Homo sapiens: one gene and its partners. The protein of the gene in region 3 interacts with the protein of the main gene of each other region in a pairwise test. Each region holds a gene or a part of one and is shown on either strand. Other genes may lie near its edges.

Region 1 (4,184 bases), on a different chromosome or scaffold from region 3:
GACAGCTCCATAACACAGGGAAGCAGGGAAATGTCATCATCTTCACTCTACTGATCAAACATTGCTACAAGTGCCAGGTCCACTACGAGATTCCACTAGATATGCAACCAAAAGGCAAGAAGAGAGCCACGCCGGCTGCCTGGGCAGAAGGGGCCTGGCCTTAGACACGACCGGGAACACAAAGGAGGCAGGAGCAGCCAGTCACCCCTGCCAAATCAGCAGGAGAAGCAGAAAGTCAACGCAGGCATGCCTGCTGCTGGTGGAACCAGGACCTGGCCCAAACCTTCTGAAGCACAAACAGCATTGGGCCCAGGCAGTTACTGAAACTCCCCATCCTGCTAGAAAGAACTACAACTCTGTGGAAAAATGGCCGATTCCAGGACTGAGACACGGAGAAAACAAGAAAAGATGAGCCTGAACACATACCTGAACCAGAAAGCAAGAAAGTGCTCACAGAATGATGGGGCGGCATCTAAAGGTGCCTGGAGCGCCCCCAACTGGCCACACATGGCACAGTCTGAGCATTAAGGAATAATGAGCCATGCACTTGGGATTAGTAAACTGCATGCATCTTACAGCTCAATAAAATTTTTAAAAAGACAGTCACCCAGACATTTAGGGGAAGAAGTAATGCCAATTCTACACAAACTCTTCTGGAAAACTGAAGAGGAGAGAACACTTCGAAACTCATCCTATAAGGCTGGCAAAAACCCTGATACCCAAACCAGGTATTACATGAAAACTATAGACCACAGTTTATCATGAACATAGACAAAAAAATTCTTAACAAGATTTTAGCAAATCAAATCCAGCATACATAAAAAGGATACTACAGCACGACCCAGTAGGATGGAATTCAAGTGACTGTAATTCACTGTAGTAATAGAAAATGATTCACCACGTGATCATCTCAAGAGCTGCCAAAAAGGAAACTGCCAAAATCCAACATCCATTCTTGATAGAAACACACCAATCCTGGAGCAGATGGACACTGCCTGCCTTCTGGGGAAGGGGGCCTTGCCCCGCTAGGAGGAATTTTTGCCACATTAAACCTGCCTCTAATCAGGCTCCTACCAGGAGTCCAGTGTACAGTAAACCCAGAGAGTGGAGAAGCAGGTTAAATGCACGAGGAAGCATTTCCTCTGATAGATCCAGAGCAGGGCATTCTAATTATAGAATTAGACTCTATAAAAAGTCAATGCCACAATAAATGTTGGGGACTGTTCCAGAAGCAAAGAGACCAAAGTAACCAATTGTAGTACATGAACTTGGACTGGATCCTTACTTATAAAGCAACAATTTGCCACAAGTTAGGTACCATGATGTGGCCATGCACTGAAAGTCAGGAGACACCTGGAACAGTTAATTTCTCAGGGGGCTACCCTCTGCAGCTGTGTAGGAGACCGCTCTTGTTCTAGAGCACTTGCTCCCAATCCAAGGCCAAGGTTGACCCCACCACCCAGGTTGTCTGGAGGCATTCTTGGTTTTCACGACTAGGGAGGGTACCCCTGCCATCCTGCAATGCGCAAGACAGCATCTCACCATAAAGACTTACCCAGCCACAAATGTCAGCATGGCTGGGTTGAAAATCCTGGTCTCCAGGAATGCTGAAGACTCTTGGTGAATTCTATGCTGTCACATGTATGTATTTTGGGATGTCAAGAACTAGAGCAAAATGTTAACTACTGAACTTTCGGTGGAGAGCACAAGCGTATGCACTACACTGTCTTTTCAGTTTTTCCAAATGTTTGAACTTTTAAAATAAGAAGTTTGGGAAAAATAAAACAGCAAAGGTGGAAATCTGATGGTGCAGGGGGACCTGCCCTATATAATTTGCAGGAAAGGGCTCCGAAGCCCAGGAAGCATGCGGCTCAAGTGGGAAGCTCTTCTGGTTTGGGAGGGCGCCACAGGAGACAGTGCTTAGGAATTTGATGTGCAACTAGAATGAGGCCCTGCAGGCCTGAGAGGGAACTGACCCTGAAGGGCGCGCACAGCTGTCAACAGACCTCCAACTACCCAAGGGCGCTGCTCACCTGTCAACAGAACTCCAATTACCGGAGGGCAACGCAGTCAGATCTACCACCAGAGTCAGCCTGCCGGCCAACCAAGCACGGAGGCCTAGGGCCATCAGGCCTGGAAGGGGGTGGGGCACAGGGAAGCCCGAACAGGGAGTTTCTGCTAAGAAGGTGGGTGCTGCGCAACTGAAAACAAAACTCGTTGGACACATTGGTCACCAAAAAGGCGCTGTCTCAGTCTCTGCGCCCTTGATTTTGTTAATCTTAGGGACCTCTTCCGAACACTCCCAAGGAAGGAGCCGAGCTGCACAGATACCAAGAGCTGCCGGGAGGCGCCGACCCCGAGGAGGCGGCACCTCCTCCCGCTGCCCCCGCGCACCTCGATGCTCGTTCTGTAGGCGCAGGCGCTGGTTGTACAGGCTCTTTTCGGTGAGGTGCTGGATCTCCAGTAGCCCCTGCACGATTTCGAACACGGTGCCGTCGAGAAGCGCCAGGGCCAGGTCGCTCAGCGTGGTGTAGGACAAGCGCTGCTGGAATGAGCTGCGGGGTAGAGGAGCGCGGTGAGCCCCGGCGGGACACGATGCGGCCTCGGCAGGCCGCCGCCCGCCCCGCCCGCGTACCTGGGCAACTCCTTCACCAGGCTCTGTAACGCCGACAGCAGCTGGTAGTGTCGCTCCTGCTGCCGGGCACCGTCCGCCACCTCCTCCAAGGCGCCCGCGTAGCGCTCCATGGCGCGGACGCCCGCTAGCCGCCGGCTGCAGCGACGAGCGCCCCCAGCTCACGTCATCCCGACCGCGGCGCGTCCCGCCCCTTTTATGACAGTCCCTAGCGCAGCGCGCCCCGCCCGTCTTAGGACAGTCCCCGATCGCGGCGCGCCTCGCGCCTTCCCCGCCCCACCACGCGCCCCGCCCCTTGCGTCATTCAGAAGGAGACGCGCCCCGTCCCTCCGTGGTGGCTGCAAGGAGGGTTTCGCTCAGCTGAGGCTCATACCTTCCTGCTCCCCGGGCCACTTTAGAGGCGAGACTCCGTCGCCTGGATATCGCAGGACCATGTAGAATCCCACCGGCCCTTGCTGAGTCATTGCGGGCTGAGGTCCGGGCTCCGCGCCGGCGCGCCTGCGAGGTGGACTGTCCCGGTCACCGGCCTTCCCAGAGGGAGGGGTCTCGGGCCAGAGCCCACAGGACCTGGGTCTAAGGCACCATCGCGGCCGAGCAGTGGTGTTGGGGTCTGTCTGCGTCCTCTCTGCCCCCGGAGTGAGACAGACAAGACCACCCTAGAGCCTCTGGGCCAGGAGAGTTGGAACCGGAGTCCCCATCTGGGCCTGCCGTGGTCGCCCCGGGGTGCCCAGCCCCCAGCCGGAACCGCGAGCCCAGACTGCCCTCTCCCCGCTCCCCAGACCAGCTGCTGGGCCGGGGCTGGGGAGCTTCTGGTGGCTGGTGTGGGCGGCAAGCCACCCAGGCGCTGAGGCAAGAGACCGAGGACACGAGCTGTTCCAGTATAATAAAATATAAAACAAGAATAGTTATACCAGATATAGATCTTAGATATGATTATATATGAATATCAATAATCATTAGTTGGTAGCAATTACTCTTTATTCCAGTATTATAATAATCCTCACTCTATAATCATAACCTAGGAAAAACCAGGCCATACAGAGATAGGAGCTAAGGGGACACAGTGAGGGGTGACCAGAAGACAAGAGTGCGAGCCTTCTGTTATGCCCAGACAGGGCCACCAGAAGGGCTCCTTGGTCTAGCGGTGACGCCAGCGTCTGGGAAGATGCCCGTTGCCAGGTGGGCCGTGGTCTAGCGGTAGTGAAAAGTGTCAAGGAACAACACCTGCTACTTAGCAGACCGGGAAAGGGAGGCTCCTTTTCCCCGGGGGAGTTTAGAGAAGACTCCGCTCCTCCACCTCTTGTGGAGGGCCTGACATGAGTCAGGCTTGCCTGCAGTTATCCGGAGGCCTAACCATCTCCCTGTGATGCTGTGCTTCAGTGGTCCCGCTCCTAGTCTGCCTTTATTATGCCTAGTCATCCTGTACACCTGGCTCTGCCTTCTAGCTAGCAGTAGTCAATTAGTGAAAGTACTAAAAGTCTCTGATATGCAGAAATAATGGCATAAGCTATCTTTCTCTCTGTCTCCTCTCCCTCTCTGCCTCGGCTGCCAG
Region 2 (4,048 bases), on a different chromosome or scaffold from region 3:
GGGGCGAGGGGGGGCATTGGTTTGAAGCCCCTTAAAACGAGGGCCCTGCAGGCGATGCCTTCTTTCCTACTCGGATTTGTAAAGCCGAGATTGCTTAGTTGGAAACCCTGTTCTCCCCTCCCAGGCGCACACAGATCCCCCTTACACGCAAGCAGCGGGCGCTTCCACGCCTCCGCGGGCCAAGGTCACCAAATGCCCTGATTCCATCCCCCACCCGCCATCAATCCTGCCGACTCTGGCCGCTCTGCCTCATTCTCTTCCAAGAAGTTTCCATTCGTTTTATTTTTTTTTCCCCAGCCCGAGGTCCTCAGTAGACTCCAGCGTGGATTTTAATTGCCTCAATCAGCAGTCATTCTCCCCAGCCGTCACTCAGAGCCTGGACGGTGGGTCCCGCGATCTAGCCCTTGGCTACGCAGGAACGGTGCGCCCCCGGGTACGGCGCGGTTCAGCAGGCAGGCGTCAGGTTCTACCAAGGCGCTGAAATGAGCCCATCAGCGGGTAGGAGCCCTTCCCCCGCCGTCCCCTCCCCAGGCTCGTGAACGGCGCCTGATGCCCGCCCGGGGCGCGAGCTCTCGAGGTCGCAGTGACCTCAGCACCTGCTTGGAGGAAAACGGCGCGGGAACCCCGCTTCCTTCCCCTCAGCTGGAGCCAGACCTCAAACAAAACCCCAATCGATGCACACAGAAAACTCCTCTGGGCCACGCTTCCCGCCTCGCCGAGGTCTCCCCAGTCTGCCCCTCGCTGACGCTGGCGCGCAGCGGCTGTGGCAGCACCCGGGACAGCGGCCGCCCGCACTTCCCGCCTCTGGCTCGCCCGAGGACGCGCTGGCACGCCTCCCACCCCCTCACTCTGACTCCAGCTGGCGTGCATGGTCTGCCTCGCATCCTCACGACTCAGCTCCCTCCCTCTCTCGTGTTTTTTTCCTCCGCCGCCCCCTCATTCATCCCCACTGGGCTCCCTTTCCCTCAAATGCTCTGGGGCTCTCCGCGCTTTCCTGAGTCCGGGCTCCGAGGACCCTTAGGTAGTCCCGGTCTCTTTTAAAGCTCCCCGGCTTCCAAAGGGTTGCCACGTCCCTAAACCCTGTCTCCAGCTCGCATACACACACGCACAGACACGCACGTTTTCTGTTCCTGCGTGACACCCGCCCTCGCCGCTCGGCCCCGCCGGTCCCCGCGCGGTGCCCTCCTCCCGCCACACGGGCACGCACGCGCGCGCAGGGCCAAGCCCGAGGCAGCTCGCCCGCAGCTCGCACTCGCAGGCGACCTGCTCCAGTCTCCAAAGCCGATGGCATCTCCGGGCTCTGGCTTTTGGTCTTTCGGGTCGGAAGATGGCTCTGGGGATTCCGAGAATCCCGGCACAGGTAGGAAGGAGAACGGGGGCCTGCGGCGGGCGAGTTTTGCGGTGGTCTGGGGTTTGCGGAACTACGGAGAAGACGAAGGAGGTTTTTCCACCTGCAACAGGAAACTTCTTCGGGCGCTTCTCCCTGCTTTTGGGCTAAGTCCTTGACGGCCCAAGAGCTCAAGACCTCTACAGCCTCTTGTACCCTGGGAAGACGCCCAAATAGTCTCAGGCCCGTTCCACAGAAGGTTGGAAGAGCCCCCCAAAGACCGCGGTGTCTCGGGGACATGGAATTCCGTGGTCCTGGGGCGCTGCTAAGATCCGGGTGTCTGGACCCTGGGGTGGGACGGAGTGACCGTGAAGATAGAAAAAAAAAATGGGAAAGGTGAGAGATTTCTTTATCTAGAAAGACAGTCTGCGAAAAAATGGATAGCTTCAGTGTTTAGGAAAACTCGTCCAAGGTAGGCAGGGAGAGGAATTTGCCTGAGCCGATTGGCACCTGGAAGGGCAGCGGTGTGGGCTTCTCCTCGGGAAACAGATAAAGGAAATGAGGGCTGGCCCGGGCCGCCAGCCTCCCGCTTGCCTTCTGCACCTGCCGGCCTCACCGAGTCCTGAGCGGCCCCCAGGAGGAAGGCGGCCCCTCCTAGGACCCCGGACTGATTGATTTTCACATAGAACGAAATTTCACACGTCCGTCTGTTGTTCTCTTTCTGCCTCGCTGTCTGCCTGCCTATTCTTCCTTGCAGCGCGAGCCTGGTGCCAAGTGGCTCAGAAGTTCACGGGCGGCATCGGAAACAAACTGTGCGGTGAGTGCCCAGGGACCGGGGCGGCCAAGGTCGGCCCGCGGGGTCCAAGCAGTCTTCTCACCTCCGCATCCCAGTCAGCGGAGTCGGGGTTTCCTGGCTGCGGGTAGGCGGGAGCGAGGGAGCCGGGCCCGGCGGAGGATTGACGAGGCCCGCGTTCGGTGTCCTTACCCAGCCCTGCTCTACGGAGACGCCGAGAAGCCGGCGGAGAGCGGCGGGAGCCAACCCCCGCGGGCCGCCGCCCGGAAGGCCGCCTGCGCCTGCGACCAGAAGCCCTGCAGCTGCTCCAAAGTGGATGTCAACTACGCGTTTCTCCATGCAACAGGTAAAGACTCAGCGGGGAGCCCCGGGGCGCCCCTGCCCCTCTCTCTGCCCCGCCCACCGCGGCCGGTGCGGGTCCGGCGCTGAGAGCCGGACAGGGGCGTCGAGGTGGCAGCGGAGGCGGGACCTGCCAGAATCTTCAGATAAAAGCGAGAAATGCGGGACCTGCCCGCTGGGTCCAAGCCCCCGAACCTGGCCTCGGAGCTCCAAGAGGGCTCTGAGGCCGTGGCGCTCTTCCCCCAGCGCGGCCCTTGGGATGGCGGGTGGCCGACGATCCAGGCGCTCGTGCGCTCACTGAATCGATGACGGCTGGCTTCCCTAGGCCGCTGGGGCCTCGGGTGGGACTCAGTTTCCAAATACCGTGCCCGAGAATTCAGAATTGCATTTTTTTTAGGTCTTTAGATCACGAGAGTGATTTGTAGCTGCAATTGCACAAGAGAACGATTCCATTCACATGAAACCCGCGCGCCGAGTTTTACCCCCGTGCACTTACACACCGTCTCCCAAATGTACGCGCGCACACACACATGCAGACACACATGCATACGCTCTCTCTCTCTCTCTCACACACACACACACACACACACACACACACACACACTGACTTTAGAAACAGCGGGCCTTCCTATCAGACCAGAGATCCTAATGCACCTGTTCCACTTTGGTTTGCCCGAAGGCATTCGAGACAAACACTTCTGACGTGAAATATTTATGTAAACATGTAAGATGGTTTACTGAGAAACACGTTTAAGACGAACTCCTGTGAACTAGATAAACGGAGGTACACGCTCTTCAAAAAAAGAAGGCAAACAATATAAGTTATGAATTGAAATGCAGTAATTAATTTGGGGAAGAGAAGAAATCATAATTTATCTCATTCATTCCCTTCACCTTTGAAAAATGTCTCCCTTTTAAAGAAAAATGTTCTGCCTTTCCAAAAGCTTTATCTAACATGAAATCTCTCAATTCAAAGAAATGTTATTGCCTCATCAAGATCTTGCCTTGAATATTTTCAAAGTAAAATTAAAATGTGGCATTTTAATTTCATTCTTTAGACCTGCTGCCGGCGTGTGATGGAGAAAGGCCCACTTTGGCGTTTCTGCAAGATGTTATGAACATTTTACTTCAGTATGTGGTGAAAAGTTTCGATAGATCAACCAAAGTGATTGATTTCCATTATCCTAATGAGCTTCTCCAAGAATATAATTGGGAATTGGCAGACCAACCACAAAATTTGGAGGAAATTTTGATGCATTGCCAAACAACTCTAAAATATGCAATTAAAACAGGTATTGTCTCATCGAAAATAATAAAGCTCTTTTTTCGTTTACAATTTTTATTTTATTTTTTTCTATAAAATGTTTTGTTTGATGGAGTTACTGATATTTTCAAAATTGCAAAGTTATTTTCATCATGTAAAAAATAGTCATTATTAGAATGATTCTAATCCAAAGCACCTTCCACTGCTATTGTTCATGCTTCTGAAGTTGATAATGTCAGAAACATGATTTAAGTGTAAATCATCAGATTTTACGTTGCATGTATTTGGACACGGAGGTTATACCACTGGTATAGAAGCAAATATT
Region 3 (3,500 bases):
ATGGGGCAAAATGCAAGCACTTGGAAAATATGGGTGGGAGGCAGGAGTGGAGGGCCACCTGTATCTTCTCTGTAAGAAATTATACAAAATGTAAAGTCACAAAAAATTTTGTTAACAGCCAAGAATACAACAGACAAGGCCACAAACGCACCAATGATTGAGGCTGGGTTTTGGAAAACCACTGTGAATCCAGAGGAAAGGAGTGGAAGAGAAAGTAAAGACGGAGGCAGAGAAGACATCAAAGCTGCTGCAGCATCACGGGGTCCTACAGCTAGAGAACTAAATAACTGGGTCAGCGATCTAATAGAAGAAAATATGCCCGAGACTAAACAAGGACGGAATCCACAAGTCACGAGAGCTAAATCAGTAAAAACACAAACAGACAAAACGTCCCCAAAAAATCCAGTTAAGTGGATTGTGCTTATTGCGAAAAACACACCTAAAACAAAGTGACCTTGAGTGAAAGGACAGACCAAGGCGGACAGCGGCTCTGCAGTGACCTCGAGTGAAAGGACAGACCAAGGCGGACAGCGGCTCTGCAGACGCTGCCACACCCCAGCAGGACCTGAGGCCCCGGTGGAACCCAGACTCCAGAAGCCTTGAGGCCCAGGTGTCCACAAGACAAAAGGAATCACTTTCTGAAGGAGCCGCTCCGTGGATGGGGATCTAAGTCCCATAGCTAAAGGCACACACATCCATGAGCTGCCAGTTCCAGGGGTGCAGGACGCCCCGATGGAGGTGGTGAGAGGAGGCACAGGCCCCTCCACGGGAGCATGGCCGGCCCAGGAGGCAAGACCAAGCAGAAAGGGTGGGGTGTCCTCTCCGTGGAATTTGCACAGCTGAGCATATCATAGGTCACAAAAAAACCTCAATAAGGTGTCCAAAATAAAAAGTGAAATCTCATCTTCTGAACACAAGTCAATAAAATGAAGGGGGAGGAGGGGGAGGGAAGCTGCGCCCCAGGGCTGTGAGCTCCGCCACCGCCTCCCCACCCTCCCTGCACGCCCCTGTCCGACCCTTCCTCGGCAGCCCGGCCCACCAGCCTGATCCGCTGCTCCTCCTCCAGGATGAAGAGGTTCTCCTTCTCGCAGTAGAAGGCGGCCGCATCCAGCAGAGCCTTCAGGGGCACCAGGCCCACCAGCTGTGAGCCCACCACTGGGAGGCTCAGCTCCTGCCAAGGCACAGGCAGCGTCACCCCCTGGGGGCTGGCTGGAGAATGGCCCTGGCTGGAGGATGTGGGGCCCCCGCCCTGCCCACGGGACAGATCGGCTCGCCCCTCACAGCAGCAGCGGCTGCTCCCGGGCTCACCTGTGCTTCTCGGCAGGTCTCCTCGTAGACCGTGTGCAGTGCCGTGACCTCAAAGTCCAGAAGATTGGTGGACACCTGAGCCAGGTTCTTCTCATCCAGGTACCAGCCAATGCCCTGAACTTTCTTCAGACGTCCTGGCTGCAAAGGAAGAGCGTTCCCCAGCCTGGACTAGGAAGCTCATCCTGCCTGGCCCTGCCAGTCTCTCCTGGCACTTGCATTCCCCAGCTGGACGGGGAGGAGCCTGTGCCTGGGTGGGTGCTGTGGTTCTCCTCCGTCCCTCACTGAGCTGGCCGGGGAGGGCCAGAGAAACTTCGCTTGCCACAGGGAAACGGAGGCCCCAAGGGTCAGACACCGGAGGCCCACCCCGGCAGGCCCCCGCCCAGCCTAGGCCCTGCCTTCCAGCCACGCTGTGTCCTAGATGTTGGGGGAATGCTGAGGGGTGGGGCCCCAGGCACCCCCATGCCGTTCTCCCATCCCATCTGCTCCGCTCCCGACAAGTCCCCTCAGCCCCGCACTTGTCGGGGTGACTGAGTCCACGTGGGGGGACTCTGACCTCTGCCCTTGGCCGGGGCCTAAAGCAGGACTTAGAGGTCCCTGTGCTTTTGTGCTGAGTCTGCAGGTCGGGAAGCCGGGTCCCAGGACCTTGGCTGTTTGTGGGACCGGGGTCTCTGAGTGGGGAACAGATGGGCAGGTGGTCCCCCCCGCTTTCTCCGGGTATCTATACCCGGAGTGACGCTCAGACCGGGTGACCACTGCTGTGCAGACGTGGAGGGAAAGGCCTGGGGGCACCTGAAGGTTTGTAGGGGTGTCGGGGCTCCCAAGGCATCTGGAGGGATATGGGGGGCCCCTGAGGGCACCTGGGACTCCGGAAGTCGCTGTTTCCCAGCAGTATGGAAATGCTGCCACATGTTAACAAAGGGAAGTCCTGCCTCGTTCCCTGGAAAATCCCCAGGAGGCCAGAGCTCCCCAGCTTCACTCCGCCCCTGACCTGCCGACCTGCGCGGTCCCCGCACGGTGTGGACGCGGAGGCTGGGCCGGTCTGCAGGTGGGAGGCCGAACCCTGTCCGGCCGGTGCCCCATCCCCACCGACCTCCCCGCCTGAGGCTCTCAGCCTCTAACCCTTTCCCGAGGGGCTGGGTGGGGCTCCATGGGGTCAGTGAACGGGGTCACCTGGTCCTTCCCGCGGCCCTGCTCCCGCAGGTTGAGCGCGATGCGGTGGGCTTGCTCCTTTGTGCCGAGCAGGTTGATGTTAAAAGCAATGAGGAACTTCCTCGCCCCCGTGGCCGTGGCCCCCCAACTGGGGACAAAGGAGCTGGGACCAAAGTCGGGCGCCCAGTCGGCCTGCTGGAGCTGTGAGCAAGTTCGCTCTGGGGTGAGACATCCCCCACGGGAGGGAACAGCCCCCCGGGGTCCCGGGAAGGAGGGGCCCGGCCCAGCCACCCCAGCCAGGACAAAGGGGCAGGTCCACCTCCTTCCCAGGCCCGACCGCCCGGGGTGGGGGCACCTTCTTAGGGAGGGCCTCGTACTCCCCGGCCCGGATGGCCGGCAGGGTCCGGCGACTGTCCATCCTGGCTGCCTCGCCGTACAGGTAAACTGCAGGAGAGCCCGGCGGTCAGGCCTGGACCGGCAGGGGGTCCAGGACTCAGTTCCTGGAGGACGCAGGTGGAGGGGCTCCCTCCAGCCTAACCCAGGAATGGGCCTCTACTGCACCCTCTCCTGGGGAGTGCCCGTTCTCCGCCTTGGATGGATGCGGGTGGTCCCAGTGGACCCTCAGTGTGGGCCAGCACCCCTGCCCACCCCCTCCTCAGAGGGCCCTGAAAAGGCGAATTGCAGGGTTAGGATGGAACATGTGGGACATGCTAACGGCAGGACGTTCATGCTTCTGTTTTCTTTGTATGATAAACAGAACCGCAAGCAACCACATAAATATAACGGCAGAGAAGAGGAAAAACTCGTGAACCCGCACACCAGTGTGACTGTGACGTGGGCCCTGCGTCGGGATTTCCTTCGGGGGGACTGGCATGACCGTGACGGGGGTTACGTGTGCCCTGCATGCCGGCGTGACCGTGACGGGGGTTACGTGTGCCCTGCACGCTGGCGTGACTGTGACCTACGTCCCTGCCTCGGGATTTCTTTCCAGGAGCGCTGGGTTGGTGCAGCCTAGGGGTGGGTATGCACTTTGTCCCGTTTGT
Region 4 (3,500 bases), on a different chromosome or scaffold from region 3:
GGCTGCTTCTATAGCACTGGAAGCTTTGGAGGCCTTATATGGTTAGGCTTTGTTTTAAGGGAAATTTGGGGGCACAGTGAGTTCTGTCTGTGAAAGAAGTCAAGCGAAGGGAGTCCTGCGATGCAGAAGTAGAGAAAGCAATAGGGAGCAATAGGTAGTGGGAGAGTACAGAAACCAAGAAACTACCCAAATCAGGAAGAATGAAAAAGAACAGCAGTAGCAGTGGAGAGGGAAAACGAGATCTCCAATTGACTGAACAGAACACTCAGCTCAAAAATCAACTGATAAAAGTCATTTTCTGAATGCCTACTGTATGCTAAGTCAAGTGAGCTAAGATCAGTGTATACTAGCCTCTGAAAGATTTCTACTGTAGAGAACAACGTGGCATTTCTTCAGGGGATGGAGATGACTCTGATAAGGTCTCTACACTTGAGTTCTGTTTTGGAAAAGTAGAGAAACCACCAGTAGAGTACAGGATGGCAAACATCTAGGAGAATCCAGAGCACACTACAGCCTGGTAGGAGGCTGAACCAGACTCAAAATACTTCAGGAAAGCATGATGTGGGTCAAGGGTTGCACCTAAGGAAGGTGAATAAATTCATCTCTTCCAATGGGGTAGAGCAGATGCAACCAGGCAGTACAATCAACAGTTTTTTCAGGGACTGAAAGGTAGTGGGGATCCTTTATGCCTGATCCAAGGAATGAGCCAAACATTAGTACCTCCTCCTCTTCCCAATTCTGCCTTTGTAACTTAACAAGCATTATTTATGCAGCCACTTAATTTTAAGGAGTTGGCTCTTAGACACTTAAGGTAGGAACAGTAATCTTTCCTGTTTTCAAGGAGATCGCTGTAAGAAAACAAGTGCATCAGACCCCTGAAAAACTACAGATTATGAAAAGCTAAAGGACAGACTGCTGACAGGGTTTCTGCTAGAGGTTTTGGAATGGTGGAAAAGAGGTAGAGACAGGGAGGTGAAGGAGAGGAAGAAGTGGCAAGTGCCTTTTCCCCCACTATCTCCCTGTTTTGGATTTTCCCCACAACTGTTGATATACATCTATAAATGAGAAATTCAATTATAACCAGCTTATTTAAAATATCCTCTATGATAGAAATCTACTTAAGTTAAAAAAATCAAAGGGAAACTAGATGCCTAATATGTAATAGCTAGTATTTTCATTCATTCATATGTTACCTATCAAGATTCTAAAATGTCCCCACTTTTCAGCAAGTCTTCAACCCACTGTTCCTAAAATTATTGACCACTTGGTCAGATAAGATTAAAGACCAATCATCTAAAACTCATTTTCTTTACCTGAGTCTGGCATAGCTCAGTCCAAAGTTTGGGGAACAGTGCAAGATGAAGTGGCAAACCTTCATAGGCAACTAGGACACCTAATATTTGAAAAGAAATCAGAATAGGTTATAATTATAAATTATACTAGTGAGATACTCAACTCTGCAGGTACAATATTACAGCTATTTCTAGTCATAACTGCATATTTTCTATATTTTAAAGTACATAAAGGGGAAAAATTCATTCCAATGTTTAGTGAAATATCTTAGAATGTGGTACTTTGAATTTATTTATATCCTATACCTCATTCCTGAAGGATATGGGACTTAAATCAACTCTTCTTTTTTGAGTATTAGAACTTTATCTGGGAAAAGAAAAAGTTACTGCAAGTGGCTCCAAATCTTTCTTGGATTAAGGTACCACTCTGCCTATTAGATAATTTTCATAGGGTGGCTAGACTGCAGGAGGGAGGAGGGGAAAGGTAAAAAAAAAAAAAAAAAAAAAAAAGTGGAGAATTAAACATATCTTTCCTCTTTTACCTTCTTTCTTCAAAGATAGAATGACCTTTGTGGTACATTTAAGTAAATGCGGCCCTTAACACCAGTTTCTTGGCTTGTTCCCAGGATCTTCTGAGTGGACCGCATCTGGCACTATGTCAGAGAGTGCTATTTGGAACCTCTATGAATTTACTTCTCCACTTCTTGACTATTCCAGATGTAAAATATGTCACTAAGATGTGTGCCCCTATCCTCTGTCATCCTATCTCTGAAAGTACAGAAGCTTCATTACCACAGTCCTAAATGAATTTCCCATCTTCCACATCCCCTAGGGTCCCCAGGGCAAGTATAATCATGGAGAAGAAGAAATATAACACAGACCATCCTCTTCCAGTTAAGAAAAGACTGAGTTAGACAAGGAGTCAGCAAACTTGTTCTGGGAAGGGCCAAATAGTGTTTGAGGCTTTGTGGCCATGCTCTGTTAACACAGCTCAACCCTGCTGAGGCAGTGTGAAGGCAGCCTTAGACAAGAGTAAGGAAATGGGTGTGGCTGTCTTTCAGTAAAACTTTACAAACACTGAAATGGGAATCTCATAATTTTCATGTCAGAAAATATTCTATATTAAAAAAAAATTTAAAAATATGAAAACTATTCTTAGCTAGCAGGTAGCCATGGTTATACAAAAACAGGCAGCATGTGGGTTGTAATTTGCCAAACCGTGGGTTAGACCAAGGACTTGAGAACATCCTACACAGGCAAGTCAGGTCACTCACTCAGAACTTACCAAGGATGCCTAGGATCCCTTCCACAGGTAAGCCAATTTATTTTCCTGTCAAGATGAGTCCCTTTAGACACAAGAGGCAAGGAAATGCTACTTCCCCTTTATCCTAACCTAATCTGGTTGGTGTTTGGCAGCATATACCCACCACGGTATCACCACACACATAGGTAAACAAGGACATGTCATCACATCTGTGGCTATAGGGAAGAGAGTTCCTACGTTCCCATGTTCCTGTATCCTAATTACTCATCAAAGTAGAGGAAGGGTTAGCAAACTATGGCCCTCAGGCCAAATCTGACCCATGGCCTGTTTTTATATGGACTTGTGAGCTAAGAATGGCTTTTTCTTTGAGACAGACAGTGTCTTCACTCTGTTGCCCAGGTTGGAGTGCAGTGGCGTGATCACAGATCAGGGGCAGCCTTGAACCGCTGTGCTCAAGTGATCCTTACACCTTAGCCTCCGTAGTAGCTAAGACTGCAGGCTGGGACAATTTTCTTAAAAAAATATTTTGGGGCCAGGCGCAGTGGCTCATGCCTGTAATCCCAACACTTTGGGAGGCCAAGGTGGGCGGATCACCTGAGGTCAGGAATTCGCAACCAGCCTGACCAACATGGAGAAACCGTCTCTAGTAAAAATACAAAACTAGCAGGGCGTGGTGGCACATCCCTGTAATCCCAGCTACTTGGGAGGCTGACGCAGGAGAATTGCTTGAACGCGGCAGGCGGAGGTTGCGGTGAGCCGAGATCGTGCCATTGCACTCCAGCCTGGACAACAAGAGTGAAACTCTGTCAAAAAAAAAAAAAAAAAAAGTTTTGGGCCAGGTATGGTGACTCACGCTGGTAATCCCGGCACTTTGGGAGGCCGAGGCAGGAGAATAATGAAACCCCGTCTCTACTAAAAATACAAAAATTGGCTGGGTGTGGTGG
Region 5 (3,500 bases), on a different chromosome or scaffold from region 3:
AAAGGCATGAGACCAATCTTTATGTAGCAACATACAAGGATTACACAACACACTGCTCAGTAAAAAAGAATGCGCGGTGGCTCATGTTTGTAATCCTAGCACTTTGGGAGGCCGAGGCAGGTGGATCACCTCCGGTCAGGGGTTCAAGACCAGCCTGGCCAACGTGGCAAAACCCCATCTCTACTAAAAATACAAAAATTAGCCAGGTGTGGTGGTACATGCTAGTAATCCCAGCCACCCGGGAGGCTGAGGCAGGAGAATACTTGAACCCAGGAGGCAGAGGTTGCAGTGAGCCAAGATGGTGCCACTGCACTCCAGCCTGGGCGACAGAGCAAGATTCCATCTCAAAAAAAAAAAAAAAAAAAAAAAGGAATGGAGATGATTGATGCTTATTTGAAACTCAATGCTAAGGTGGATGTGCCTCCACCCACCAGCATAGGGAAGTCCTTCAGATATAGGTGAGGCTGGGCTCACCCCTGGCACCTCTGATTTAGCCTGCTGGAGAAGCTCCTGCAGGCAACTGATTCTCTCGCACTCCCCTGGGAAGAACTGCTTTAGACAACCTGGCTAAAAATCCTCAAAATGCCCAAAAGCAGACAAATAGGAAAAAGGCATCTAAAAAGTCACAGACAACTCAAAAGAGACCGCCCCTGTCTCTCACGCACGGATTACTGTAAAGTGAGTAATCCAATATGCTTTCAGGCAAATTGGTTTTGAGGAACTAGGACAGCTCCCCCTGCCCAGGAGGCCCTGACCTCAGACCCCTTCCTCTGTCCTTCCTAAAACTGAATCACACTCTGCTTCTCTTTTCTGAGACTCTGTTTTGCCATCTGCAAAATGGGAATAACAACACTACCCACGTCTTAGGGTGGTTGAGAGGACTGAGTCAGATAGTAAGGGCAAGCACTTAGCGTGTGCTTGGCACATAGTAGGTGCTCAGTAAACAGCTGCCATCTCCTTAACATCATCTTCATCACTAGCATAGGTGCCACCAAGGAGGCTTGGGTTGGAGTCAAGTCTTCTGGGATGGGGGCCTGGAGGGGTCATGAGTGCAAGTACCCAGGGTTAGAAACTGGCAGGAAACACTAGGGCTGGGTCCCTGCGGGTAGCCGTGAGGCCGGCTCAGCAGATCCTTCTGCCCACGGGAGGCTGTGGCCACAAGGAATGGACGGCCAGGCCCAGCCCCGCCCAGGCGGCCGTCATACCTTTTCGCTACACTTTCTGATGGTGGCTGTGAGCTCACTGACTACCATATCCACACACTTGATACTGGGCTCTTTGAGCTTCTGCACCTGCTTTTTCACTGTGGCTTCAAAAGCGAGGTCAGGTGTGAAGAGGCCCGTCCTGCACCCGGGGAGGAGGTGGGGACAGGAGGAGGAGCAGCCGTGGGTGGGGAGGAGAAGTGGGTGAAAGCCAAGCAGAGACAGGAATCCAGGGGTGGAGAGGATGGCACGGGCACGGGGGAAGAGAGAGAGACATCGACACAGATAAAGAGAGAGAGAGAACAGAAGACAATGTGAGCGTGGGACCGGCCCTCCCTTGCCACCCGGGGTTGGCACCTCCCAGGTGCTGCCAAGCATCCCCTGGGCTCCATAGGTATGGCCAGAGGTACGAGGGACCAAGCCCCTGCTCCGTACAAGACCCCTATTGAGTTCAGATCCTCTTCCCAGGGATGCTCCCCTGCTCCTCGGCCTCACTGAGGCTGCCTGCTCTCTCCCAGTGCCGTCTTTGTCCACAGCCTTGGGTTCTCCTAAGGAGCTGACCCAGGCCAGGACAAGGCCAGGACCTCATCCACCCATCCTGTTCAATTCTACGTTTCCCAGTGTCCCAGAATTTGCTTCATCCTGACTCCAAACCTCAGTACCATTCCCTATCTCTAGGGTTGCCGCATCCAGCTGCCCAGGCCATGCACTGCACAACTCCAGGGGGGTCCATTCCCGTAAACCGTGGCGCAGAGGCTGCCTCCTAGGGTTGCAGTATAGCAGCCTGACCTCCCTCTCCAGCTCCCTGCTCTAGTCCCGCCCCTCCCTTTCTCTTCAAGGGGCATTCCTGGCCTCTCCTCCACAGGGGTTTGGTGGAACCAAAAGACAGAAAGAGAAGAGGAAAGACAGAAAGAGTAGAGGTAGTGATAGAGAGGGGCCGGGACAGCAGTGGGGAGAGGAAAGGAAGGGAGGCTGGAGGGTGGAATCGAGGAGCACTGGACTTGGAGTCCAGAGCCGTGGCTTCAAGTAACAGCTCTGCCACCTCCTGACTACTGTGACTTGGGCAAGCCACTTGATCTCCTGGAGCTTCAGTGTTCGTGCTGTGAAATGGGCACCGTCCTCCCTGTCCTGCCTCCCTGCGTGCTTCTGTGAGGCTTGGATGGTGGGGCAGATGGGAGAAGGGCTCTATCCCTGGAAAGCCAGATGTGGATGGAAGGGAGGGAGAGGCCCTGAGTGAGGGTCTTACGTGAGCATCCTGTGTGAGGGTCCTGAGTGAGGGTGAGATGAGTATGGGGAGGATGAAGGACAGCGGGGAGCCAGGGCACCTGCTAGTCCTGGGTCCTCTGCACCCCCTCTGGCCACCCAGGCCCACCGAGCAGTGCCCGAGAAGGCCCTGCATTTCACCTGTCTCCAAGGCTAAGGTTTCCCCAGACCCCTCCCTGGAGCTCCCAAAGATGACACCTCCGAGGACAGGGAGGGGGCTCAGGGTCCCCTCAAGCCCTATTCTCTGAGCTGGGGGAGCTCTTGGTGGGCTCTTGGGGTAAACAGCCAGCCATCATCCCCGTCTCACCCATGTCCAATCCCTGGGTCCCCAGACCTGGGGGCCAGGGGTGGGTGAGGCCCTCTCAGAGGCACATTGTCTCCTATTCAGTGGTGGCCTGCCTCCCCACCCCGCTGAGGTCTGTACATGCTACCGAGGAGGCAGGGGGGGACATGGGGAAGGAGCGCCTGGCAGCAGTGCAGGGCGGGGCAGAGGCGGTGGGGGCTGGCCCGGGCCTCCGGGTTACCTTCTTGGTGCACTGTCTAACGGTGCTGATTAGCTCCGAGATAACCATGTCCACACACTTGAGACACGGTTCTCGGATCTTCTTCACCTGCTTTTTCACAATGGTCTCAAAGGCCATGTCTGGGGTAAACAGCCCCGTTCTGAACGCCCGGAGCGGGAGAAGGGCAGAGTGTCACAGGCCAGTGCCGGCCAGGAGGGCCAGGCCGAGGCTCCTCCCCAAGCCCACGAACTCTGCCTGAGGGGCCCTTCCACTACCCCTCTCTGGGCCTCAGTGTCCCCAGTTGTAAAATGGGAGGGAGGGGTTCTAATGAAGGGTTTTTTGTTGTTGTTGTTATTTTTTTTGAGACGGAGTCTTGCTCTGTCGCCCAGGCTGGAGTGCAGTGGCGCAATCTTGGCTCACTGCAACCTCCGCCTCCCGGGTTCACGCCATTCTCCTGCCTCAGCCTCCCAAGTAGCTGGGACTACAGGCGCCTGCCACCACGCCCGGCTAATTTTTTCGTATTTTTAGTAGA
Region 6 (3,500 bases), on a different chromosome or scaffold from region 3:
CAATCCCATACACAGACAGCCAACACCCAATACTCCTAATACTGTGTCTTTCTAGTTTGGACAAGTGTCTTTCTATTCTGGAAATGTTCTACGATGCTGTTAGAGCAAGTAATATTTTGGGTTAAAAATGCCTTCCCATGGAAGGTGGACTCCTGATAATGCAGTGGGTGAGAAAAGACTCTAAGGACTATGGCTGTAAAACAGAAATACACCCAAGTCCATGATGGCTTGTCCACTTGCCTGTTGCTTTTTCAGCAGGATATTGACACTGGTCAGGTCTTTGCCATAGTCATCAGACTGAATCTGACTCTCCAGGCCGTGCAGCCATTTGTCTAGATCTGCACAGCTCTGGGTGAAAAGTTCGGCCTTGTTTGCATCAAAGAGCCGCTGGGCCTTTGTCTGGGTAGTGGATTCAAGGACTTCCCACATTTTATGTAAACCAGTGAGTTTCTCCTTCACCACAGCTTCCGTCTCAGGCTTTTCTGAAATGAGCTGCATTCCTTCCTGGAAAACAAAACCAACATGGTTGTAAATAAACAAGTTTGCTACAGAAAAAATGTCACTGTGAAAAACAAACCTAGGACATTTGATCTGTGATTTAACCATTCACTCAATACACACAGTCTTTCCACATGAAGTTACTGCTCAATAAAATCAACAACGACCCCTAGGTTGTGTACATTACAAGGGTTTCATGGGAATTAAGCAATAAATGTTACATGCTGAAATAGTCTCAACTGGGGCAACGGAATACTGAATGCTAATAACGTGACTTTATCTCCTCCATTCCATGACCAAAGATGATATACAACACATTATTATTATTATTATTATTATTATTATTGTTATTATATTGAGACAGAGTCTCGTTCTATCACCCAGGCTGAAGTACAGTGGCGTGATCTCAGCTCACTGCAACCTCTGCCTCCTGGGCTCGTGCCTCAGCCTCCCCAATAGCTGCGATTACAGGCACATACCACCAGGCCTGGCTATTTTTGTATGCTTCATAGAGATGGGGTTTCACCATGTTGGCCAAGCTGGTCTGAAACTCCTGGCCTCCAGTGATCCATCTGCCTTGGCCTCCCAAAGTGCTGGGATTACAGGCATGAGCCACCGTGCCCTGCCAACACATTATTTTAACCGTGAAGAATCTGAAACACTATAAAAAGTCTAAAAGGAGAGAAGTCGGGGGGAAGGGGGGGACTCCATATTCATCTTCAGTTATGCTGCCCAGAATCTCTCTGTGCAAGAATAACACATCATAGTAATTATTATAGCGCCTGGTATACAGTAGTCTCATAGGAAAAAGCAATTTTAAAAAATATGTATATATTTAAAATTATGTGCAATCTGTCACAGTACAACACAAATAATATGATCAAGACAGTGGAATCCCTGCATGAGAGCTCACAGTCCATCAGCAACAGCAGATGAGAGGCACAACAGAAACTAAATGCCTAGTATTCGTTCTACGATAAATCAAGCATTTTCTACTAACTGGTTGGGTTTCTGCTTTTTTCCCTTTTGATGGGTTGAAGTCAGGAACCCGTACGTGCAAAGGGAGCTATTACTGGCTGTGTAACTTACGTAAATGTACAGATAAGATCAGATATGCTGGAAAATGTGCTAAATAAAAAGGAGTTTATTACTACCCTGTTTGTTTTCTCACCATGGCCACATCAAATGTTTTAACTCACCTTCTCGATTTTGTCAAGCCATTCTTTGTTGGATGCAAGTTCTGCCATAAATGCTTGATGCTTCAACCATTTACTGTGCAGATTTCTGGCTTCATCGTAAGACATGTCCTGGGCTGTGAGCATCTTCTCATTGATCCAGAGAGACAGCTACAGAAAGATCAGAAGGATTCAGAGATTGTGATCCTAGACATCAGCCTTTTTTCCGCCTGGAAAGGGTTGTGTTTATGTCATATTATGCATACTACACACGTTTCCATGGTGACAGACAACCAAATATTTAACTTCACAACTCTGACCCGTCATGACAGGTGTCCATTAGATGGAGCTTGTACCTGAGCTCTGCTCCAAACTATATCTAACATTCATTCCAGAAGTACAAAAGCTCTATAAGCCAGTTTTCAAACTGTTTGGCACTCATAACTGGCTTTCCCCACAAAAGGCCCGTGTTTAAAATTCTACCCTAACCACTCCAAGACATGACTCTTTTTCTCTTCCAAATACCTGTGTCAGCTATACCATGTTAATCATGATTGACTTTTACTCCATTTGGCAATCCTTCTTACTCTCTTAGTTCTTTTTATTAAAAAAAAAAAAAAAAAACTACTTATTTATTACCTCCCCCTTTTTGTGGGTGCATCGAAGGGAATGCAAAAAGGCATAAATAACTTGCTCACTGTAGGGCTAAGGCAACAATCATGCCCTTTCAATGTTTCCTTCAAGTTTGAGTCACCTTCACCTCTTTTTCTATAGCCTCTAGTTCTCTAAAGAACCTTTCATTCACACCAAGAACACTTCACAGGACTTGATTTTGAGACCCAACATGTCTGCTTGGATCTGAACTCTAGAGAGCCGCACAAAGGCTGCTGGCCGCTGACAGACCTGAGAAAGGAGCTCTCTTACCGGGGTCAGCCAAACGCCAGGCCCAGACCCACTTTTGCTGGCTTCCATCCCGAATCGGCCCTGGCTCATTACTGCCTGCCTGTAAGGGCCATGCCAGAGTCCTGATTCCCGCCCCATTTGCTTTGCTAACCTAGGAAGAGCTTTTTGTTTGCCCAGGCTGAAGATACACAAAAGAATGCAGAGCCAGCCTGGAATCAGAAGTAACCAACTGAAGGGACCATGTCCCTTCTCCTGAGTGACCGTGAGAAGCCCACTTTTACACCAGTTATTGTCACAACAAATTGGCACCTTAAATCCTTCATGGTTCTACCAACAAAGATCTAGAAGTGACACATAAAACCAGTAGAAGTACTTACAGAATTAACACTTCCAAGGCCCTTCCACTCCCACTGTGGGCTGCTGCCAGGAAAGGCTCCCCGAGATTTGTTTTTTGGAAATGATGTCAAGGAGAGCGACGTGGGTCACAGGAGCCCTCTGGCTCTGAAAGTGGGTGAACTCTTGGGCACTGTCCCTATTCTCAGGCTATTCACCACACAGGGAATGGGGCAGGGGGCGGGGGTGGGAGGGGGTTAAAAGCAAAAGGTAGTGAGATTTTTGATTTCACTCTTTGTTGAGGGAAAAACTAGCAAATCTCATAAAGTCCTTTGTCATCAAAGACCATGGATCTATTAGACAATAAAGGCACGCACTTCCTACTTGGAAAAAATTATCTATGTTCCAGTTATCTGGGCAGCTAAAATCTGAAAGACTATGGCTATTCAATCTTAGGGGAAAAGAAGTTAAAGTAAAACTTAATGACAAAATTTTTCCCAGTATTCTGTACATACACACAAAACAGAAGGCATTTATTGATTCAAAGTGCCAAGGACATTCACATATTTTCGCTATTCATAACCACTTACC
Region 7 (3,500 bases), on a different chromosome or scaffold from region 3:
TTCCCTAAGCCTAATTTTAATTATTTTAAATTTTTTTCTGCCTTTTCGGACTTAGAAATGACCTCTGAACATAATTGTGGTCTCTCCAGAAACCAAAATATTCCAAGAGAACTCATCTGCCAATTTACTGGGAGAAAGCTGCACAACAAAGAACAGTATAAACTGAATAAGGCAACTCTGGCAGTCCAATCAACACAATAATGGAATCTACTAAAGAAGTTCTTAATCATTTTATTTTTCCTGCATGGGCCCTGCTGGTGAAGCCTATGAACTCTTTCTAAGAAAAGTATTTTTAAATGCATAAAATACATGCACACAATACAGAAAATTACAAAAGAAACCAATTACACTGGAATATGATTATCAAAATATAAAAAACACAAACCTTGAGTAATATATATGCTTTTTTAATACTTTAAGTAACAGTTAAGTTATTTCGAGACAGCTTTAATGTATTCCAAAAGTATCTACCGTTTCTATTAGAAACAGTCTCTGGGCTGGTTATGGTGGCTCATGCCTGTAATCTCAACACTTTGGGAGACCAAGGCAGGAAGATGGCTTGGGGCCGGGAGTTCAAAACCAGTCTGGGCAATCTACAAAAAATAAAAAAATTAGCTGTGTGTAGTGATGTGCACCTGTAGTCCCAGCTATTCTAAAGGGTCACTTGAACCCAGGAGTGATGGTGCCACTGCACTCCAGCCTGGGCAACAGAGTGAGATCCCATCTCTATAAAAAATAAAAATTAAATTAAAAAATAGACGACACAGTCTCTGGTACTGTACTGCTAATGCTAATGTTGTCTATACTCATAACAAGAAAATGTAAAAATAAAGATGTAACTTTTTCCCCATTCAAGGTCATAGGTCCCCGGGTTTAAAACCTTTAATATACAAAGAACTATGCTTATTATGCTGTTAGCTCAGTGTTAATAAATTTTATGGCAATAATAATGCACTTTTACCTAAATAATGACATGTCATCCCGTCATCCCAAAGTGAAGCAAAGAGGACAAGAATTTTTAGCTCCATTTTGCAAGTAAAGAAATAAGGCCAAAAGCAAGAAGGGTAGTGAATACAGGGAGCATCTGTAGAATGCTCACTCTCCACTCTGCCTACACTTCCTATCTTCACAATAACTGCCCTCCCCCTTCCTGCCCAAGACAGGTGTTACAATCTCTCATTCTTCTAAAAAAGAAATTAAGATTCAGATAAATGACTTGCTCAATGTCAGGGGGCTACTTAACAAGACATAAGTCCTTTAAAATCCTAGTCTTGGGCTCTTTTGATTATCTTATTCTACTTTTCTCAGATACCATTTTAGACAAGTTCATTCGAAACAATTACTAGGGCTTTTCAAGAAGTAGGCTATTAAAGCTCTCTATTGTTAGCAGGTCAAGAGACTACCTCTAAAGATGTTTTAAGTGCACATTAATAACTGGTATGATCATCTCTGTAAATGGATTTCCTGTAAGGGTGAGAGGCAGTTTTAAATAAGATATTAAGTCTTGCTCATGTAGAAATGATTTCTGGTTTAATGATATTTTCAAGGAAATGAAATATTCAACGTTTGAGTAATATACATGTTACTGAAAATGCAAAGCAAATTTCTAAAATTTATAAAGCTGAACTGCAATATTAACACCAAAGTTTTACACTGAGTTTAGGATCTCTTCTAAGAGTTTTGTAAATTTAAAAAGGAAAATCATACCTGTATTGTTCCTAAGGTGAGCAGAAAACAAAATAATACACTATCATTTGCAATTATTAAATACTAAAAGGTAAGAAAGCTAAATCCAGTTCAACTTCCTCATTTCACTCTTAAGAAAACATTAAACATTCACATAAAAATGTTTAGAAATGGGAAAACAGGTTCATGCAAGTCACTTATATAACAGGAAAGAAGCAAACACAAAATAATTCTCACAAATAATTCTACCCTTAATGTGCTTTGAAACATCAGATATTATAGCTTATTTTCAAAACAGAACAAAGTCAGTATGTTTCTTAAATGTCTTTATAATTAGACAATATTCTCTAACACAGTCAACGAGGCTATATGGCAGTTCTATTGCTATAAAAAAATTAAGCTTCTAATTTTCTAGATATTAACTCCCTTTTTTGAAAAACTGATACAATGCCTGGTTCACAGTTGGGCCTCAAAATGTCTGTTGATTTTGTTGGTGAATTAATCTTACACATAATACTAGTTTTAATTTTTCTGTTGATTAGTGTCAAGGGCAATAGTTTCCTCTCTTTTTTTATGTTGTAAAATGACCAAACTAATAAGCATCACTAAGAAGAGAGAACCAACATGAACATGGGGAACAAAAAAAGCTCCTTACAGCTGGGCGTGGTGGCTCACACCTGCAATCCCAGCACTGTGGGAGGCCCAGGTGAGCGGATCACCTGAGGTTGGGAGTTCGAGACCAGCCTGACCAACATGGAGAAACCCCCATCTCTACCAAAAATAAAAAATTAGCCGAGCGTGGTGGCGCATGCCTGTAATCCCAGCTACTTGAGAAGCTGAGGCAGGAGAATCACTTGAACCTGGGAGGCCGAGGTTGTGGTGAGCCAAGATCGCGCCATTGCACTCCAGCCTCGGCAACAAGAGCAAAACTCTATCTCAAAAAAAAAAAAAAAAAAAAAAACTTTTTACAACTAGGCCTCCCAAATTCAAGCCTTAACCATCTCTATCCAAAACTGTTTTAATAATTTCAATTAAGTTGACAATCAAATTAAAGGCCAGATAATTTGACACACTTAATGATAACTGTAATTACCATGCTGCTTGTTGATTAGATATTAGCAGTAAGCTTTCTGGTGATATATACTAACTTTGCTGAATAGCCAAACTAAGTTTTTATAGTTTTTCTAAGTCTAGAACCTATAAACAGCTTAAGTATCAGGAGTCCTCACAATGGCTAAGAAAATTTAATCCAAGCCAAAGGGATCTAAAGTCAATTAACCACAGCTGAGATTTTCTATGTTCCCATTCTCCCTTTCACTCAGAGTCCTTATGTTGACTGGGGGCGGTGGCTCACACCAGAAATCTCGGCACTTTGGGAAGCCAAGGCGGGTGAATCACTTGAGGTCAGGAGTTCAAGACCAGCCTAGCCAACACGGCGAAACTCCGTCTCTACTAAAAATATAAAAATTAGTCCCGTCTCTACTAAAAATATAAAAATTAGTCAGACGTGGTGACCTGTTTGGTGGTGTGCATCTGTAGTCCCAACTACTCGGGACGCTGAGGCAGGTGAATTGCATGAATCCAGGAGGCAGAGGCTGCAATGAGCTGAGATCATGCCACTGCACTCCAGCCTGGGTGACAAAGTGAGACTGTCTCAAAAAAAAAAAAAAAAAAAAAAAAAACAAGGGTCCTTACGTTGCATTAATGCATCCACATTATTCCATGTACTCACCAGGATTTTTTGTTATAAACAAAAATACCCACTCTGGTTAACTTATTAAAAGATTATCAGTCAATTTACAAAAACAACAGGA

The links.
Region 1: the proteins of FTCD (region 3) and DGCR6 interact in a two-hybrid assay, tested with the Homo sapiens proteins (one large-scale study listed by BioGRID and IntAct).
Region 2: the proteins of FTCD (region 3) and GAD2 interact in a two-hybrid assay, tested with the Homo sapiens proteins (one large-scale study listed by BioGRID and IntAct).
Region 4: the proteins of FTCD (region 3) and USP34 interact in a two-hybrid assay, tested with the Homo sapiens proteins (one large-scale study listed by BioGRID and IntAct).
Region 5: the proteins of FTCD (region 3) and DNM1 interact in a two-hybrid assay, tested with the Homo sapiens proteins (one large-scale study listed by BioGRID and IntAct).
Region 6: the proteins of FTCD (region 3) and SPTBN1 interact in a two-hybrid assay, tested with the Homo sapiens proteins (one large-scale study listed by BioGRID and IntAct).
Region 7: the proteins of FTCD (region 3) and RDX interact in a two-hybrid assay, tested with the Homo sapiens proteins (one large-scale study listed by BioGRID and IntAct).

What each region holds. Positions count from the first base shown.
Region 1 is NC_000022.11:18,904,936-18,909,119, reverse strand, and holds the start of DGCR6 (protein DGCR6), read right to left. Parts: upstream 2,801-4,184; 5' UTR 2,746-2,800; coding exon 2,636-2,745; intron 2,556-2,635; coding exon 2,395-2,555; intron 1-2,394. UniProt on the Homo sapiens protein: May play a role in neural crest cell migration into the third and fourth pharyngeal pouches.
Region 2 is NC_000010.11:26,215,526-26,219,573, forward strand, and holds the start of GAD2 (glutamate decarboxylase 2), read left to right. Parts: upstream 1-1,248; 5' UTR 1,249-1,284; coding exon 1,285-1,360; intron 1,361-2,084; coding exon 2,085-2,144; intron 2,145-2,316; coding exon 2,317-2,466; intron 2,467-3,517; coding exon 3,518-3,751; intron 3,752-4,048. UniProt on the Homo sapiens protein: Catalyzes the production of GABA.
Region 3 is NC_000021.9:46,149,080-46,152,579, forward strand, and holds part of FTCD (formimidoyltransferase-cyclodeaminase), read right to left. Parts: exon of another isoform or gene 3,215-3,500; intron 2,902-3,214; coding exon 2,813-2,901; intron 2,681-2,812; exon of another isoform or gene 2,659-2,680; coding exon 2,479-2,658; intron 1,447-2,478; coding exon 1,309-1,446; intron 1,172-1,308; coding exon 1,040-1,171; intron 1-1,039.
Region 4 is NC_000002.12:61,191,588-61,195,087, forward strand, and holds part of USP34 (ubiquitin carboxyl-terminal hydrolase 34), read right to left. Parts: intron 1,394-3,500; coding exon 1,314-1,393; intron 1-1,313. UniProt on the Homo sapiens protein: Ubiquitin hydrolase that can remove conjugated ubiquitin from AXIN1 and AXIN2, thereby acting as a regulator of Wnt signaling pathway.
Region 5 is NC_000009.12:128,223,879-128,227,378, reverse strand, and holds part of DNM1 (dynamin-1), read right to left. Parts: intron 3,129-3,500; coding exon 2,990-3,128; intron 1,345-2,989; coding exon of another isoform or gene 1,206-1,344; intron 1-1,205. UniProt on the Homo sapiens protein: Catalyzes the hydrolysis of GTP and utilizes this energy to mediate vesicle scission and participates in many forms of endocytosis, such as clathrin-mediated endocytosis or synaptic vesicle endocytosis as well as rapid endocytosis (RE).
Region 6 is NC_000002.12:54,641,327-54,644,826, reverse strand, and holds part of SPTBN1 (spectrin beta chain, non-erythrocytic 1), read right to left. Parts: intron 1,845-3,500; coding exon 1,698-1,844; intron 505-1,697; coding exon 241-504; intron 1-240. UniProt on the Homo sapiens protein: Fodrin, which seems to be involved in secretion, interacts with calmodulin in a calcium-dependent manner and is thus candidate for the calcium-dependent movement of the cytoskeleton at the membrane.
Region 7 is NC_000011.10:110,286,615-110,290,114, forward strand, and holds part of RDX (radixin), read right to left. Parts: intron 594-3,500; exon of another isoform or gene 386-593; intron 1-385. UniProt on the Homo sapiens protein: Probably plays a crucial role in the binding of the barbed end of actin filaments to the plasma membrane.